Homo sapiens: one gene and its partners. The protein of the gene in region 1 binds, or shares a complex with, the protein of each later gene. Links are inferred from orthologs where the notes say so. Each region holds a gene or a part of one and is shown on either strand. Other genes may lie near its edges.

Evidence for each region. The genes of interacting proteins can lie anywhere in the genome.
Region 2: the proteins of AP1S1 (region 1) and AP1M1 are in contact, whole or in part, in a crystal structure (PDB 1W63), measured with the Mus musculus proteins. The link is inferred for Homo sapiens from one-to-one orthologs. Residues at the interface, in NP_031483.1 of Mus musculus: Lys26, Lys30, Arg33, Glu34, Gln37, Lys43, Glu51, Trp52, Arg53, Asp54; in NP_031482.1 of Mus musculus: Lys12, Glu31, Asn186, Asn188, Val189, Leu190, Glu232, Glu234, Asn270, His272, Arg421.
Region 3: the proteins of AP1S1 (region 1) and AP1G1 are in contact, whole or in part, in a crystal structure (PDB 1W63), measured with the Mus musculus proteins. The link is inferred for Homo sapiens from one-to-one orthologs. Residues at the interface, in NP_031483.1 of Mus musculus: Met1, Leu14, Arg15, Leu16, Gln17, Lys18, Trp19, Leu21, Ala22, Thr23, Asp25, Arg28, Lys29, Arg42, Lys45, Met46, Cys47, Ser48, Phe49, Glu51, Lys56, Gln74, Asp75, Asn76, Glu77, Leu78, Ile79, Leu81, Glu82, Leu83; in NP_001288140.1 of Mus musculus: Leu7, Arg8, Ile11, Arg12, Arg15, Leu54, Tyr55, His57, Met58, Gly60, Tyr61, Lys78, Phe79, Thr80, Arg83, Ile84, Leu87, Met90, Leu91, Asp94, Glu95, Thr115, Phe117, Leu123, Cys124, Gly127, Cys128, Tyr152, Lys155, Lys156.

Annotation. Positions count from the first base shown.
Region 1 is NC_000007.14:101,149,751-101,157,486, reverse strand, and holds the start of AP1S1 (AP-1 complex subunit sigma-1A), read right to left. Parts: upstream 3,012-7,736; 5' UTR 2,973-3,011; coding exon 2,970-2,972; intron 894-2,969; coding exon 715-893; intron 111-714; coding exon 2-110; intron 1-1. UniProt on the Homo sapiens protein: Subunit of clathrin-associated adaptor protein complex 1 that plays a role in protein sorting in the late-Golgi/trans-Golgi network (TGN) and/or endosomes.
Region 2 is NC_000019.10:16,242,902-16,246,439, reverse strand, and holds the end of AP1M1 (AP-1 complex subunit mu-1), read right to left. Parts: 3' UTR 534-3,538; downstream 1-533. UniProt on the Homo sapiens protein: Subunit of clathrin-associated adaptor protein complex 1 that plays a role in protein sorting in the trans-Golgi network (TGN) and endosomes.
Region 3 is NC_000016.10:71,749,802-71,756,843, forward strand, and holds part of AP1G1 (AP-1 complex subunit gamma-1), read right to left. Parts: intron 6,359-7,042; coding exon 6,218-6,358; intron 4,087-6,217; coding exon 4,032-4,086; intron 532-4,031; coding exon 409-531; intron 183-408; coding exon 93-182; intron 1-92. UniProt on the Homo sapiens protein: Subunit of clathrin-associated adaptor protein complex 1 that plays a role in protein sorting in the late-Golgi/trans-Golgi network (TGN) and/or endosomes.

The DNA.
Region 1 (7,736 bases):
CACTGCCAAAGTATTTGTCTAAGAGCTCCACGTATCGGTGGATCAGCTCCAGTGTGATGAGCTCATTGTCTTGGCCCTCGATGGCGCAGCAGAAGTAGAGGCTGGCATATCTGCGGAGAGGAGCGCATGAGACATCGCTACAAGCTTGCTTCAGGACCCAGGCATTCTGGTCTCAAACCTCTCACCAGCCTGGAGGTGGTCTGTGCCCTGGCTGGCCACAGGTGAGGTGGCCCTAGGGCATGTAAAGAGTAACTCACCTGCCTCTTTGTGCTGTCTTAAAAACATGCAAAGAACGCATGCTTTTTCCTTCCTGCCCTCTGACCTCCTAAGTTTGACTCAGCAAAAACCTGAGCCAAGTAATTTACCTGCTCCGAGGAGAAGGAACCGGAAAGGGTGTGTGTGTGCGTGTGTGTTAGGAAAAGTAGGGCAGGACCTTTGACTGCAAGGGACATGCGCAGTGGGGCAAGACAGGGCCCAAAGGGACACGTGAGTGAGGCAGGTGTTGCACGTGAGCAAAACCAAGTGGTAAACAAGAACTTCTTTAAGAGTTTGGGGAGAAAAAAAAAAAAAAAAAAGGAAGCTGACATTCATTACTGTCCTCCAGATGTCCTCAGCTCCCAGGTCTCCCTGACCTACAGGACGACCATTTCTCAGACATTTTAACCCACTGCCCAACTTGAATCTAGGCAGGTCTGAAAGTAGGTGGGGAGTCACCTCTTATAGACAACTTTGAGGTCCCTCCACTCCAGGAAGCTGCACATCTTGGGCTTTCGAGCCAGGACAACCTGCATGAGCTCGCGCACCATCTTCTTCCGTTCCTTGTCCGAAGTGGCCAGGTACCATTTTTGCAGCCGCAGTTTTCCCTGCCGGCTGAATAATAGCATGAACCGCATCTGTGGGGGATGGGAGGGCAGAACCGAGGGTAACCACACATTCCCCAAACTTATCTCCAGCTAATTCTTCTCTACTTTCTTCCAACATCCAGCCCCTTGCTCTCAAGGCTGGGTGTTTCCACCAGCAGGGGGAAGTCAGAGCTTCTGAGTCTGTCAGCTGGGTTCAAATCCTGGCTCTACTAGTTATGCAAGGCCTTGGCCCAATTACTACTGTAAGTCTCTGGGCCTCAGTTTCCTTATGTGTAAAATGGACATTGTACCTGCCTTGCACAGTTGTTAGGTGAGACTAAATGATTTGATATATGCAAGTCCCTAGCACAGGCAGGCAGTATAACATGTTAGCTATTATTATTATTATTTTTGAGACAGAGTCTCTCTCTGTCGCCCAGGCTGGAGTGCAGTGGCGCAATCACTGTTCAGTGCAATCTCCGCCTCCCAAGTTCCAGCGATTCTCCTGCCTCAGCCTCCTGAGTAGCTGGGATTACAGTCACGTGCCATCACGCCCGGCTAATATTTGTATTTTTAGTAGAGATGTGGTTTCACCATGTTGGCCAGGCCCTGGTCTCGAACTCCCGACCTCAGGTGATCCACCCACCTAGGCCTCCCAAAGTGCTGGCATTAAGGCATGAGCCACTGCGCCCGGCCGTTAGTTATTACTATTATTACCATGATTCCCTGACCTCTTGCTTTCTGGTCTGCTTTCTAAAGGTAAGTAAAATGCCTAGCACAGTGACAAGACGACAGTAACCGACGCCAAAGAAATGCCTGTTCTCTTCCACCCTCTCTCTATCCATCACCATGCTGAAATCTGGTATTTTGTCCCTGGAGAAGCTACCTCAATTTTCCACCCCATCATAGCCATAAGATCTTAATGATCTCCCAAACATATCATCCTCCAGTGCCAGGCCTATGCCCAGGGGTATCCTCCTCTGTAGTATGTATCTCCAACACCACACAGGGTATGCAGATGCCCAAATCCTATCTTCCTCTCTGCAGGCACCCAGGCATTTGGTCTTCGACATTTCTCTTTAACTTTTCTTCCTTTTAGGGTGCCTCCTGCTAAGCGCCCACTCCTCCCCAGACACCAGGTGACCAATTTCCCTCAGTTAGGGCCCCGCCACCCAGGGGGTTCCCCTAAAAGAATGTCTGCAGAACAGACAGCAAGCTGGGTCAAGTGGGATGGAAGACAGAACCCTCACTGCCCAGTGTACCCCAGCTTCCCAGTTCCGGGGGGTCTGGGCCACATCCTGGAGTCTTCTCCTTACCCCAGTAGCTCTTCTATTCATGGACATGCCCAGGCTTGGAATCCCTGGGTGTGTGGCACTGTACTAGCTTAGTAAGTGAAAAATCAGAATTCAGGAGAACTGATTTTTTTGGTGGAGGGGAAAAGAGGGGCGCTGGGGAGCCTCGTGCGGCGCTCAAATAGGGGGGTGGGGAGCAAGCAGGAAGACGGAAGGCCTGGATTCCGGAAAGAGAATGGGAAGGGGGGCAGAGAGCCCCGGAGCCCGGGATCCCAAAGCCTGGGTCCCTCGGAGAAAAACCACGAGTCCACTTCGCTTCCCTACCTGGGCCCAGCCTCTAGGCAAGCACGGCCACGAACGCAGTAGGGCGCTCCCTTTTCCGACCCGGAAACTCCCCTCCCACACCCCTCTCCCCACCCGGGTCCCCGCTCCCGCCTGTGCAGCCCGGGAAGGGGGTCTCGGTGACTGGTGACCCCCGCTCCCTCCCTCAGCAAAGAGACTCCCGCAACCCTCTGCTTCGGGCGGCTTCCCTGCAGCGGGGATCGAGGGACCCCAGGGGCCAAGACCAGAGCGCCCCTCCCGGCTCGGGACGGCCCCGCCGCCCCTTCGTCAGCCCCCGCTCGCCCTGCAAATGCGCCCCCTCCCCGCCCCTCTCCCGAATGCCACCTCCCCCTCTTCCTCCCGAGCCCGGCTCGCCCACCCGCCGAGGCAAGGGAGGCCTCTGAGGACCAGAGGGAAGACAGGGCGGTTCACCCCGAGGGCGGCCCCCGAGGACCCCCGCAGGTGCAGCCCACGCCCCTCGCTTCCCCCTCCCCTCCCTCTTCGCACAGCCTACCATCCTGCAGCCTCCGGCTCGGCGCGTCCCACTTCGGCCACCGTAGGCGCCAGTCCCACTCCCTTTCTTATCCTTTCTCCTGCTGCCCTCCCTCTCGCCCGAAGCCCCGCCCCGTCCCGCCCAGGCTCTGACTCCCGGCGCGCCACGCACTGCGCAGGCGCCGACGCCGCGGGGAGCGCGGGCGGGGCTGGAGGCGGAGAAGCGGAAACCATGGCAACCAGGTCCTTGACTGCAGCTTCTAGGAGCCCGGTCGTCATGGTAACGCGGCTGTCCTGTGGGCTGGTTGGAGGATGGGGGAGGAGGACAATAAGGTCCTCGCGCTTTGGAGCCTTGTGGGGCAAAAAGGCGGGAAAAGGGGTGAGAGGTGAATGGGACGATCATTGGAGTTCGAAGCAGCAGGCAGGACTCCTGGAAGGGGAGTGGGCCGTGAAAAGGGAGCAGGGTGGGAATTAAGTGTAGGGGAGGAGGAGTGACCTGGAAAACAGAAAGACAAAGGGTCATGAGAAAAGTATAGAACCCAAGCTGAATATCTATTGAAAGCGTGATAGATACACCCCTCTAGTTTTTTTCTTTTTAGAGACAGGGTCTGGCCGCGTCACCCAGGTTGGAGTGCAGTGGTGGGATCGTGACTCTCTGCAGCCTTGAACTCCTGGCCTCAAGCGATCCTCCCGCCTCAGCCTCCTGAGTAGCTGGGACTACAGACGCACACCGTCATGCCCAGCTAATTTTTAATTTTTTTTTAGTAGAGACGGGGGTCTTACTATGTTGCCCAGGCTGGTCTCGAACTCTTGGGTTCAAGAGACCCTCCCGCCTCGGTTTCCCAAACTGCTGGGATTACAGGCGTGAGCCACCGCGCCTGGCTTCTGATTTTACAGTAAGAGAAATGTGTAGAAAAAGAATAAAAGAGAAAAGGAGAGGCTGCTATAAAAGGCATGTAAGGAGAAGGGGGAGGAACGTGAACTGAGGCAAAAGGGGAAGAAATAAAGAGCGTCTTAAAAGGTTAACTTGGGTCAAAACTCAAAAAGGGACAGATGTCACCCAAATCTCAGTGTGAAGATGAGGTGGATGTACGTTGTAATATGGGCTTTTAAACTGAATGTGTGTGTGTGTCTACATGTTACTGGAAAAAGGGGTCCCGATCCAGACCCCAAGAGAGAATTCTTGGATCTCATGCAGGAAGGAACCCAAAGCAAGTCGTAGAGTGCGATGAGAAGAGAGAGTTTATTGAAAGCTACACCCTTACGGAGTAGGGCGTCCTCAGAAAGCAAACAGAGGAACACACTGTCTTAAGTTTTTCTTTTCTTTCTTTCTTTTTTTTTTTCTTCTTTTTTTGAGACAGGGTCTTACTCTGTTGCCCAGGCTGGAGTGTAGTAGCATGATCATAGTTCACTGCAGCCTCCACCTCCTGAGCTCAAGCGATCCTCCCACTTCAGTCTCCCAAGTAGCTAGGACTACAGGCATGCACCACCACAGCCAGCTAATAGTTGTATGTTTTGTAGACACAGGGTATTGTCATGCTACCCAAGCTGGTCTGGGACTCCTGGACTCAAGGTATCCACACTCCTCAGCCTCCCAAAGTGTTGGGATTACAGGTATGAGCCACCGCCCCTGACCTTTAAGTTTTTCTTATATAGGGGTCTTGTTTTTGTAGAGACTAAACTAAGCCGAGTCAATGTGCAGATGGGCCAATGGCATGACAAAATTTATTATTCTGTTAATTTAACTATCCTTGACATTCTAGTAGGTAAGTACATCAAAGCAAAACTTAATTATCTTTCTTCCTTTTTTTTTTTTCTTGAGACAGAGTCTTGATCTGTTGCCCAGGCTGTAGTGCAGTGGCGTGATCTCAGCTCACTGCAACCTCCACCTCCTGGGTTCAAGCCATTCTTGTGTCTCAGCATCCCTAATAGCTGGATTACAGCTACATCCTTTCACCTCAGCCTCCCAAGTAGCTGTGACTGCAGGCATGAACCAGTGCATCCAATTAATTAAAAAAATATTTTGTTGTAGAGATGGGGTCTCACTACTGGGATTGTAGGCATGTGCTACGACACCCAGCTAATTTTTGTATCTTTAGTAGAGAGGGGGTTTTGCAATGTTGGCCAGGCTGATCTCGAACTCCTGGCCTAAAGCAATCCTGCCTTAGCCTCCACACCCAGCCAGAACTATAATTATCTTAAAGGCACATATTGTTATGGGTATTGGGGCATCTGGATTTTCTGTAGTTGGAGGAGTCTGTCCTTGCAGGTATCTTTAAGCTGTTTCCCCAACTGTAAACAGCTTTGGGTTGTGACTGACAAGGAATGTGCCTTGTTAGTTTCAAGATGGAGCTGAACTTAAAATGGCTTTATGCTGGCTCTCTGAGGCTCCTGCTTCCCTAGCACAAATGATAAAGTAAAGAGGTCTGGATAGAAGGATAAGAGAAAATCTTAAATTTTGTCATGCAGAAAAGTTAATGGTAGATAATTGTTGGCAACTAATGTGCTATTATTTTTGAGTAGCACATGATGCAATTGTTGGTAAGGCCTCACCTCCTGTCTCCACTTTATTTATTTATTTTGTGTATTTATTTTTTTGAGATGGAGTCTTGCTCTGTTGCCCAGGCTGGAGTGCAGTGGCACAATCTCGGCTCACTGCAACCTCCACCTCCCGGGTTCAAGTGATTCTCCTGATTCAGCCTCCTGACTCAGCCTTCTGTCTCAAAAAAAAAAAAAAAAAAAGAGGACAGTAGTACATATCTTGCAAGGTGGTTCTGAGGATTAGAGGTAATGTATAGCAAGTATCTGTAAACACTTCATAATGGTACCTATCATTTCCTCTTCCCAGACTCTTCCTTTTTTTTTTTTTTTTTTGTTGTTGTTGTTGTTGTTGAGACGGAGTCTCGTTCTTGTTGCCCACGCTGGAGTGCAGTGGCACGATCTCGGCTCACTGCAGCCTCCACCTCCCCGGATCAAGCAATTCTCCTTCCTCAGCCTCCCAAGTAGCTGGGACTACAGATATCTACCACCACACCCCGCTAAGTTTTATTTTTTTAGTAGAGATGGGGTTTCACCACGTTGGCCACGCTGGTCTCAAACTCCTGACCTCGAGTGATCTGCCTGCCTTGGCCTCTCAAAAGTTCTGGGATTACAGGTGTGAGCCACCGCGCCCGGGCCCAACTTCTTTCTTCTTTTACTTTTTCTTCTTCCTTTTGCTTTTGTTTTCTTTTCTCCTCTGCCTCCACCTTAGGCTTTTCAACACCATCGTCTAAGATATATGACATATACTAGTGGAATATCTTACCAGTGGCATAGATTATTGGCTGCCTGAACTATTGTGGTGCTACTTATTTATTTATTTATTTATTTTTTTTTTTTGAGACAGACTCTTGCACTGTCGCTCAGGCTGGACTGCAATGGTGTGATCTCGGCTCACTGCAACCTCCACCTCCTGGGCTCAAGTGATTTTCCTGCCTCGGCCTCCTAAGTAGCTGGGATTATAGGTGCATGCCACCACGCCCAGCTAATTTTTGTATTTTCAGTAGAGACGGGGTTTCACTATGTTGGCCAGGCTGGTCTCGAACTCCTGACCTCGTGATCCACCCGCCTCGGCCTCCCAAAATGCTGGGATTACAGGTGTGAGCCACCAAGCCCGGCAGCTATTTATTAGGTCAAGAATAAGATGGCACAGACAGTTAGCTGGCTGGACTATCCTGGTTGTGGGGAAAAGCAAGACAGATCAGATTGTTACTGTGTCTGTGTAGAAAGAAGTAGACATAGGAGACTCCATTTTGTTCTGTACTAAGACAAATTCTTCTGCCTTGAGTTTCTGTTAATCTATGACCTTACCCCCAACCCCGTGCTCTCTGAAACATGTGCTGTGTCAAACTCAGGGTTAAATAGATTAAGGGCGGTGCAAGATGTGCTTTGTTAAACAGATGCTTGAAGGCAGCATGCTCCTTAAGAGTCATCACCACTCCCTAATCTCAAGTACCCAGGGACACAAACACTGCGGAAGGCCGCAGGGACCTCTGCCTAGGAAAGCCAGGTATTGTCCAAGGTTTCTCCCCATGGGATAGTCTGAAATATGGCCTCGTGGGAAGGGAAAGACCTGACTGTCCCCCAGCCCGACACCCGTAAAGGGTCTGTGCTGAGGAGGATTAGTATAAGAGGAAGGCATGCCTCTTGCAGTTGAGACAAGAGGAAGGCATCTGTCTCCTGCCCGTCCCTGGGCAATGGAATGTCTTGGTATAAAACCCGATTGTACGTTCCATCTACTGAGATAGGGAAAAACCGTCTTAGGGCTGGAGGTGGGACATGCGGGCAGCAATACTGCTTTGTAAAGCATTGAGACGTTTATGTGTATGCATATCTAAAAGCACAGCACTTGATTCTTTACCCTGTCTATGATGCAAAGACCTTTGTTCACGTGTTTGTCTGCTGACCCTCTCCCCACTATTGTCTTGTGACCCTGCCACATCCCCCTCTCGGAGAAACACCCATGAATGATCAATAAATACTAAGGGAACTCAGAGGCTGGCGGGATCCTCCATATGCTGAACGCTGGTTCCCTGGGTCCCCTTATTTCTTTCTCTATACTTTGTCTCTGTGTCTTTTTCTTTTCCAAATCTCTCGTTCCACCTAACGAGAAACACCCACAGGTGTGGGGGGCAACCCACCCCTTCACCTGGTATCATTTGTAGGTCAAGAATAAGATCAATAAAGCAAGTTGTTAGGATTAGAAAGGATAAATCATATGGAATGAAAGCAAGGACTAGAAGTATGGCCG
Region 2 (3,538 bases), on another chromosome or scaffold:
TTCATTTTTTTTTAAATAAACTCACTTTGTTGATTTTCTTTATTGAGTGTTTCTTTTCCATTTTCTTTGTATCTACTCCCTATTATTTCCTTCTTTCTGTGCTCTTACATTTATTTTGTTGTTCTTTTTCTAACTTCTTGAGATGGAGGCTTAGATCATTATTTTAGCCTTTATATATGTATATATGTGTACACATTTAATATCTACTCATATATATTTCTTTCTTTTTGAGATGGAGTTTTGCTCTTGTTGCCCAGGCTAGAGTGAAATGGTGAGATCTTGGTTCACTGAAACCTCCGCCTCCCAGGTTCGAGTGATTCTCCTGCCTCAGCCTCCCGAGTAGCTGGGATTACAGGCACATGCCGCTGTGCCCGGCTAATTTTTGTATTTTTAGTAGAGATGGGGTTTCACGATGCTGACTTCAGGTGATCCACCTGGGCTGGCCTCCCAAAGCGCTGGGATTACAGGCTTGAGCCACCTCGCCCAGCCTAGAATTGTAACTCTCAAACATTCAAAGGAAAACAATGACTTTATTTTTATTTTTTAAATTATTTATTTATTTTAGCCCCCTGCCTTTTTAAATATAAGCTCTCATCATTCAAGCAATGACTTTTTTTAAAAGCCACAAACAATCTGTAATAAATCCAGAGAGGACATAAAAGAGAACATAGAAAGGACAAAAATAGAAAACAAAGTAAGACGGTAGATTTAAATTTATACTTAAATGTAATATCAGTTATTACATTAAATGTAAAGGGACTTAATGCTCCAGCTAAAAGTCATTTTGTCAAACTGAATTTTAAAAATTCCAACTCTACGCTATTTTCCCCCCCAAATGCTGTCACACTCCTAGGAACAGAGAGGTCATTCTGGGTGGAATTCTGGTCTCCCCGCACTTTGGGAGGCCGAGGCAGGTGGATCACTTGAGGCCAGGAGTTCTAGACCAGCTTGGCCAATATGGTGAAACCACAACTCTATAAAATTACATAAATTAGCTGGGTGTGGTGGCGTGCACCTGTAATCCTGGCTACTCAGGAGGCTGAGGCAGGAGAATTGCTTGAACCCAGGAGGTGGAGGTTGCAGTGAGCTGAGATCACGCCACTGCACTCCAGCCTGGGCGACAGAGTGAGACTCTGTCTCAAAAAAACAAAACAAAGAAGAAAAGCAAAGTTACAGTGCTAAAATAATAAAAATGTTTTAGCTCCCTTAGATAGTAAAATGCATACTTATCAAAATGCAGATTTGGCTGGGCGCAGTGGCTCATGCCTGTAATCCCAGCACTTTGGGAGGCCGAGGCGGGCGGATCACCTGAGGTCGGGAGTTTGAGACCAGCCTGACCAACATGGAGAAACCCCGCCTCTACCAAAAATACAAAGTTAGGCAGGCCTGGTGGCGCATCGTGTAATCCCAGCTACTCAGGAGGCTGAGGCAGGAGAATAGCTTGAACCCGGGATGCAGAGGTTGCAGTGAGCAAAGACCGCGCCATTGCACTCCAGCCTGGGCAACAAGAGCGAAACTCCGTCTCAACAACAACAACAACAACAACAACAACAACAAACAACAAATTTTATCCATGTTATTTATTTATTTATTTATTTATTTTGAGACGGAGTCTCGCTCTGTCGCCCAGGCCGGACTGCGGACTGCAGTGGCGCAATCTCGGCTCACTGCAAGCTCCGCTTCCCGGGTTCACGCCATTCTCCTGCCTCAGCCTCCGGAGTAGCTGGGACTACAGGCGCCCGCCACCGCGCCCGGCTAATTTTTTGTATTTTTAGTAGAGACGGGGTTTCACCGTGTTAGCCAGGATGGTCTCGATCTCCTGACCTCGTGATCCGCCCGCCTCGGCCTCCCAAAGTGTATCCATGTTATTTATTCTCCTCCCAGACAGTCATTAACTTGGAACATTTTAACTCAGTTTACTCCCTGCAGACTTTTTTTCCTGTTGTATAATTCTATCACTTAAAAAAACTCCAGAAACTGTTTATGCAATCTTTGTCTAGATTTTCTCATGTATTTTCTACTTCTTTGCTTTTATTTCTTCTTGCATCATGCCCTTCCGTCTGAGATCACTTTCCTTGTGCCTGATGTGAGTACACTGTTTACAATTTTCTTTAGTGTTAGCCTGCTGCTGGCAAACTCTTTCGTTATTTGTCTGCAAAATGTTTTTACTGTAACCTCATTCTTGAAATACTTTTGCTGGGTCTCTGATTTGGGTTAGTGGTTTTCTTTTAGCATGTTGAAAATGTCACCCAACTGTTTTCTGGGTTCCTTTGAAAAGCCAGCTGTCTGTCTGTCTGGTTGTCATGTCTGAAGGTGATGTGTCTTTACCTCTGGCTGCTTTAAGTATCTTTTGCCTTTTTCCCCTTTGTGAATGTTTTTGCTGAAGTGTAACATATACACAAAAGAGTGTGCAAATCATCAATGCTTGATGGATTCTCGAGAGCACACCCATGTCACCTGCATCCAGATTGAAAAATATTCTCTAATTATTTATTTGGAGACAGACTCTCGTTTCGTTGCCCAGGCTGGAGTGCAGTGGCACAATCTCAGCTCACTGCAACCTCTGCCTCCAGGGTTCAAGCCATTCTTGGGCCTCAGCCTCCTGAGTAGCTGGGATTTACAGGCGTGTGCCACTACACCTGGTTAATTTTTGTATTTTTAGTAGAGATGGATTTTCGCCATGTTGGCCAGGCTGGTCTCGAACTCCTGAGCTCAAGTGATTCACCTGCTTCAGCCTCCTAAAGTGCTGGGATTATAGACATGAGCCACTGCACCTGGCCATTCTCTAATATTTTCTAACTTCCATTATATTTTCTTCTTTGACACATGGTGATTGAAAAATGTGCTTTAAAATCTCTCATATTGGCTGGGCATGGTGACTCACACCTGTAATTCCAGCACTGTGGAGGCTGAGGCAGGTGGATCACTTGAGCCCAAGTGCAAGACCAGCCTGGGCAACATGGCAAAACTCCATCTCTACTAAAAATACAAAAAAAAAAAAAAAATAGCTGAGCTTGGTGGTGCTCACCTGTAATCCCAGCTACTTGTGAGACTGAGATGGGAGGACTATTTCAGCCTAGGAGGCCAAGGTTGCAGTGAGCTGACATCGTGCCACTGACTGCACTCCAGCCTGGGCAACAGAGACCCTTTCTCAAAACAAAAACAAAAACAAAAACAAAAACAAAAACAAAAAAAACCTCTCATATTTGGAAATATTTTAAAGTAATTTATTTCTTGTTGAATTCTAACTAATTTCTCTTGAAAATTCCTCAGAGAGTGGGAACTCTAATAATAATTCTTGGAGTTGTGTGGAAACTTCTCGGGGATCTAATACATTTTTTCTTTTGCTTTCTTGCTTTAAAGTCTATTCTGGCCGTGTGTGGTGGCTCACACCTGCCACTAGCACTTTGGGAGGCCAGTGGGGGTGGATCACCTGAGGTCAGGGTTCAAGACCAGCCTGGCCAACATGGCAAAACCCTGTCTCTACTAAAAATAAAAAAAATACAAAAATAAAAAAATTTAGCCAAGCATGGTGGTG
Region 3 (7,042 bases), on another chromosome or scaffold:
CAAGGAATCAACCTCAACTCCCCATTAAACACTACTCTCCTATAACCAAAACCACTATTTTCCCCCACTTAACCAAGAGTGACAAGGAGTACCTGAATAGGCTCTTCCTCTTCACACTGGCCAGATACAAGAAGATCACCATATTCACCTATACACCATGCAGCCACTTGTACCAAAGGTTGCTGTGAAAAGAAAAGTCAACGTTTCTCAAGAACTTCAATTTTTCCAAAGTTATTTAATGCAAATCATAGGTCATCTCATAATAAAGATCAAAACTGTGCATATCTAGAGTGTTAGAAATAAAGACATACCAAAGGGGAGAGAGGAGGGGGGAAAAAAAAGAAGAAAAACATACCAGAAAAATTGAGGGTAAAATTACCCCCTAAAATAGTTGAATGAAGTACTTACTTGAGAATAATCACCAAGAATTGCTTTGTACAGGCGCTGGACAGTATAGGCATGCATCTCCACACTATTAGTTATTAACTGGATTAAATTGGGGACTGCATCATCACGAACATAACTTCCTGCCTAAAAGGAAATGCAGACAATTACCCCTAGAAACACACAGAAATGATGATAACAAGTGTTAGCTATTATTATTACTGTGTGTTTTTTCCTTTCTTTTTTTGAGACAGAGTCTCGCTCTGTCACCCAGGCTGGAGTGCGATAGCGCGATCTTGGCTCACTGCAACCTCCACCTCCCAGGTTCAAGCGATTCTCATGCCTCAGCCTCCCAAGTAGCTGGGACTACAGGTACATGCCACCACACCTGGCTAATTTTTTCTATTTTTAGTAGAGATGGGGTTTCACCATGTTGGTCAGGGTGGTCTCGAACTCCTGACCTCAGATGATCCACCTGCCTCGGCCTCTCAAAGTGCTGGGATTACAGGCGTGTGCCACTGCGCCCAGCCATTACTATTGTTTTTAAAAGAAGAATACCAGAAAACACCCTCAAAGATAAATTTGGTTCCAATTCTCAGGTTCATAACAGCTCAAACTTCAAAGTCTTATTTAAATATGTTACATTTTTAAATTTTATTTTATTTTTAAAAATTTTCTCTTTGTCCAAAGGCCGGGTGTGGTGGCTCACGCCTGTAATCCCAGCACTTTGGGAGGCCAAGGCGGGTGGATCACAAGGTCAGGAGATCGAGACCATCCTGGCTAACACGATGAAACCCCGTCTCTACTAAAAATACAAAAAATTAGCCGGGCATGTGGTGGGTGCTTGTAGTCCCAGCTACTCAGGAGGCTGAGACAGCAGAATGGCGTGAACCCAGGAGGCCGAGCTTGCAGTGAGCCGAGTTTGCGCCACTGCACTCCAGCCTGAGCAACAGACTGAGACTCCGTCTCAAAAAAAAAAAAAAAAAAATTTCTCTTTGTCCAAATTAAAAAAGGAAGGCTGGACACAGTGGCTCACACCTGTAATCGCAGCACTTTGGATGGCTGAAGCAAGATGACTGCTTGAGGCCAGGAGTTTGACACAAGCCTGGGCCACACAGCAAGACTCCATCACTACCAACAATAATAATAATAATAATAATAATGTAAAGGTTTAAAACTTTATCACCCAACCTTGGTCAATCTCCCATTCCTAAATAGAACAATAGATTTAATTTGTAAGACTGAGACCAGTCCTAACCATGTGTATTTTGGAAAGGAAAAAAAAGAAAAAAAAAAAAAAACAGCCAGGTGATCAGGGTTTTATCAGGTCACTCCTGTTAAGAAACACAAAGACAGAGGAAGAATTCTGGGAAAATGATCAGAAGGAAAGGTGAGAAGCTAAAAAGCAGGTAATTTGCAGTATAGTTTATTTACATCCTTCCGTAAAGCAGAGTGCATTAAATACAAGAAAGCATCAGGGTGATCTAATGGGTTTGTATAATAAGACTACTTCATTCAACAGCAGCAGAATACACATTTTTCTTAAACTTACACTGAACCAAGAAAGACCATATTCTGGGTCATAAAAAATATCTTAACAAATTTCAAATAACATAAATCATAGACAGTATGCTCTTAGACCACACAGAATTAAACTAGAAATCTGCAACACAAAGACAGGTGCAAAAAAATCCCAAAATATTTGGAGATTAAAAGAACATACTTCTAAATAACACATGGGTCAAAAACAACATTATAAGAGAAAACTATAAGCCAATCTCTCTCATGAATACACATATAAAAATACTCAACAAGATATTAGCAAATCAAACCCAACAAAGTTATAAAAAGAATAATATACCCTGACCACGTATTCCAGGTATGTAAGGCTGGTTAGGCATTCAAATATCAATGTAACCCAGCATGTAACAGGCTAAAGAAAACAAATCACATGATCATAAGAGAACACAAGTCAGTTAGAAAAATAAAATCAGGGGCACAAAAAAAAAGCTTTTGAATTCTCATAAACACTTTCCTTCAGGAGTGTTAATTTCTCCCTTCTTTTGAGCCTCATGAAAACTAGGAAAACATGTCCTGTTCATCATTATGTTAATTACATTTTGTTAGATTATAATTTTTCCCCTTGCTAATCAAATTTATTAACTTTTAACCTTTTACCAAGTTAATTCATTGTAAGTAAACTAAAAAACGAGTATGCCCCAGAGAGAATTCCACAGCAACAAATACATATACATATAAGTCATAATTTCATAAGTCAACAAATACATATAAGTCATAATTTCAATGATATAATTTTCTCCCTACAGATGTTTCATAATTTACTTAATCCCCATTTGGGGACTACTAGTTGTTTCCGGTTTTCTCCTACTATAAACAATATTAGGATGAATACTTTTACATACACATTTTTGTGTACTTGTCCTATTATTTTTTCAGGCTAAAGTCCTAAAAATTGAATTAATGAATCAAAGGGTACAATTTAAGGCTTTTCCTACATGCTACCAAACTGCATAGTAAAAAGATGGCATCATCCTATACTCCCATAAAGTGAAGAGTACTGCCTGTTTCTCTATTTTCTAACACTGGGAATTAGATTAAAAAATACGAAATGTGAAAAATGATACCTCAATTTTACTTTATTTCTTTAATAAGAAAATTTTTTCAAATGTTAATTAGCCATTTCTTTCTTCATGAATTGCTGGTTCAAATACCAATTTTTCCATTAGAGTGGTATTTCCTATCAATTATAAATTATTCATAGATTGAATATATTAATATGCTGTCATAAGTTAATGTTTTCCCCAGTTGTTAATTTGCCTTTTAAATCGTAGACTGTTCCCCTTTTTGTTATTCAATTTTTAAATTTTAATATGGTTAAATTTGTGGCTTTTCCTTTACAGTAGCTACTTCTAGTGACTTAATTAATGGAAATGGTTTTCTTTACATGTCACTGCACTTTCATTTTTACTCTTAAATACCTAATCCTTGCCTACTAATTGAATAATAAACACAGAAACCCTGAATTTCTGCAAGAATGCCAAAGAAAGGATCCCATCCAAAACAGGATTTCAAATCCTGAGTAACTTTAGCCATTCAAAACCCTGCAATGGCTTCCTAACATATTCAAAATAAAATGCAAGCTCCCATGAGGCCTACATAGTCTGGCTCCGCTTATGTCTCTGACATCCATCCTACCATTCTCTGCCTCTCTCACTTTATGGCTTCACTTGCCTTCCTGTTGCTCTCCAAGCAAGCTATGCTTGTTCCTACCTCAGGTCTTTGCACTTAGGGTTCCCTCCGTATGGTACACTATTCCTCACGATCTCTGCATGGCTTGCACCTCATGTCTCTTAGGTCTCTACTCAAATGTTATCTCCTCTGAGAGACCTCCCTGACTAACTCTAATCTAAAACACTTGGCCAGTTGCCCTATATCCCACCTTATCCTGCCATCATTATATTCCTCCATGCTGCTTTAGGTTTTTCTTCATGGCATTTATTCCTAACTGACATTAATGTTACCTATTTACTTGTGAATTTCTTACCTCCCTGACTAGAACATAAACTTCATGATAACATCAGTATATCCCAGCACTTCGTATATGCTGTCTGAAAGAAGCTACTTACCGTTGTCAAAACACGCATAATTGTGTCTATATGCCATCGTTTGGAAGGTGCATACCTGAAAAAAACAATGGAAAGGGACACTTGGAACCAGTAAAATATACCGTTTTCAGTGACTAGAAAATCCTGCCCAAGCAGGGTGACTCACACCTGTCATCCCAACATCTTGGGAGGCCGAGGTGGGAGATCACCTGAGCTCAGGAGTTCGAGACCAGCCTGGGCAACACGGTGAAACTCCATCTCACCAAAAAATACAAAAATTAGCTGGGTGTGGTGGTGGGTGCCTGTAGTTCAGCTACTCTGGGAGGTTGAGGTAGGAGGATTGCCTGAGCCTAGGAGGTTGAGGCTACAGTGAGAAAGAAGAGAGAGAAAAGAAAGAGAAGAAACAGAAGAAAGAAAAGAAAGGGAAGAAAGAGAAGAGAAGAAAGAAAAGAAAGAAGGAAAGAAGATGGAAGGAAAGAAGGAAGGAAGGAAGGAAGGAACAAAAAAGAGAGAGAAAGAAAAGAAAGAAAAAGAAAGAAAGAAAGAAAGGAAGGAAAGGAAAAGAAAGGAAAAGAAAAGAGAAGAAAATCCTGTCCTACAGTCTTTTCTAGGTTCCCTGGATAAGTGAACATATCTGGAAACATTTCAACTTCAAATCTAGCAGCAAATGCCATTTCAAAGAGTGATAAAAAGGTATACAGTCAACTGACTTCAGTGGCTCATGCCTATAATCCCAGTACTTTGGGACGCCAAGGAGGAAGGAGTGCTTGAGGCCAGGAGTTCCACACAAACCTGGGTAACATAGCAAGACCCCATCTCTACAAAATAAAAATTAAAAAATTAGTGGCACATGATGATTTGCAGCTACAGTCCCAGCTACTCAGGAGGCTGAGGCAGAAGGATGGCTTAAGCCCAGAAGTCCAGGCTGCAGTAAGCTATGACTGGGCCACTGCCCTCCAGCCTGGGTGACAGAGCAAGACTCCGTTTCTAAAATTAAAGAAAAAAAAAAAAGAGGGTACATAGTCAAACTCAGATGTTTCCCATAAGATTGCAATAAGAGTTGCTAAGCTGAGAAATGAGATTTGTTTTCAGTTTCAGAGAAAATGAATCATTCAGTCAGGGCAGGAGACGATAAAGAAGAAAGAAGAAAAGGGACTGTTTTCAGACCAAGACAACATTTGGACTAAAAACTTGTTTCCTTAAATTCAGAGTGGAAAGAAGAGAAAGAATAGCTGTACTACTAAAATCATAAGGTACTTCCTCAAAATTCTGCATAGAGCTGCAATTCAGGTGCTGTAACTGTTCTATTGCCTTTATTAAAACAGCATCACAGGCCAGGTGTGGTGGCTGATGCCTGTAATCCTAGCACTTTGGGAGGCTGAGGCAGGCGAATCGCTTGAGTCCAGGAGTTCGAGACCAGCCTGGACAACATAGCGAAACCCCATCTCTACAAAAAGAAAAAAACAAACCCAGAAATTAGCAGGGTGTGGTGGCGTAAGCCTATGGTCCCAGCTACTTGGGGGGCTGAGGCAGGAGGATCCCCTGAACCTGGGAGGTCAAGGTTGCACTGAGCCGAGACTGTGCCACTGCACTCCAGCCTAGGTGACAAAGTGAGACCCTGTCTCAAAAAAACCCAAAACAAAAAAAACCAGCATCATAGATGAGAGGTTAAAGAACAGATAAAGGAGAAGATTTCATAAAAGTGTGAAATTTTTTTGGTCTCAGCATATTTAAATGCTGGCTATAATAGCCTTCTCCAAGCTAATTTATAATTGAGGGTTTGAAATAAATGTTATGTGTTTTAAACATATTTAAAGTAGTTTCCCCATTTTTTTTTTTTTGTTTTGTTTTTGAGATGGAGTCTTGCTCTGTCACCTAGGCTGGAGTGCAGTGGCATAACCTTGGCTCACTGCAACCTCCACCTCCCAGGTTCAAGTGATTCTCCTGCCTCAGCCTGCCGAGTAGCTGGGACTACAGGCGCGTGCCACCAGGCCCAACAAATTTTTGTATTTTTAGTGGCGACAGGGTTTCACTATGTTGGCCAGGCTGGTCTCGAACTCCTGACTTCATGATCCACCTGCCTTGGCCTCCCAAACTGCTGAGACTGCAGGCGTGTGCCACCGCGCCCAGCCCCCTCCCCATGTTTTAAAGACACTTCCAAAAGTTCCAAGCAGACTTTACCAATAAAGGTAAAAATTAAATCTTACTTTTCTGCAGCAAGAAAGATTCCAGATGCACAGTCTGCTTTAAATTCTGGCTCACACGAATCCAGAAAATAAAGTAATTCTTTCATCATGCCTCGGATATTATTCCCATTTACCAGGGCAAAACTCAATTCCATTGCACGCCTTGCAGAAGGGAAAAATTAAAAACAGTTAAGAAATTTATAGTGGAAATGAAACAAAGACCCAGGTATGCACTCTGTGAACACCAAGTACTGCCAGATGTGCTGACGTCCTTGCACGATCTTGTGATCCCAATCTTTGCACACGAAATAACCAAGGAGATGTATTCTTACATAATCAAAGTTAGTTTTGATATTTTGAATCTTCATGCAATATTCTTCTTCAAAAGTCCCTACGAGATATACCACTAATGTCCAAACATGCAGCTTGGGTTCAACAGGCTGTTCTACAAAGGTGGAAGTTAGAATACCTGAGAGTCTCAAAAAGAGGGGCAACAAATAAATGTATTACCCAATAATAATACCTATCTGCCTCATTCCTTAAAAATGTGACATGTTAAGTCACCATATTCTACTTTTATTACACCCCACTCTGTCCAAACATGATGTAATATAGTTTATGTCAAAAGGTATGCAGAAAATTCAAATTAAAAACAAATTCAAGGCCGAGCGTGGTGGCTCACACCTGTTTTCTCACCACTTTGGGAGGCCAAGGCAGGCGAATCACCTGAGGTCAGGAGTTTGAGACCAGCATGGCCAACATGGTGAAAGCACTTCTGTACTAAAAATACAAAAATTAGCCGGGCATGGTGGTGGGCGCCTGTAGTCCCAGGTACTAGGGAGGCTG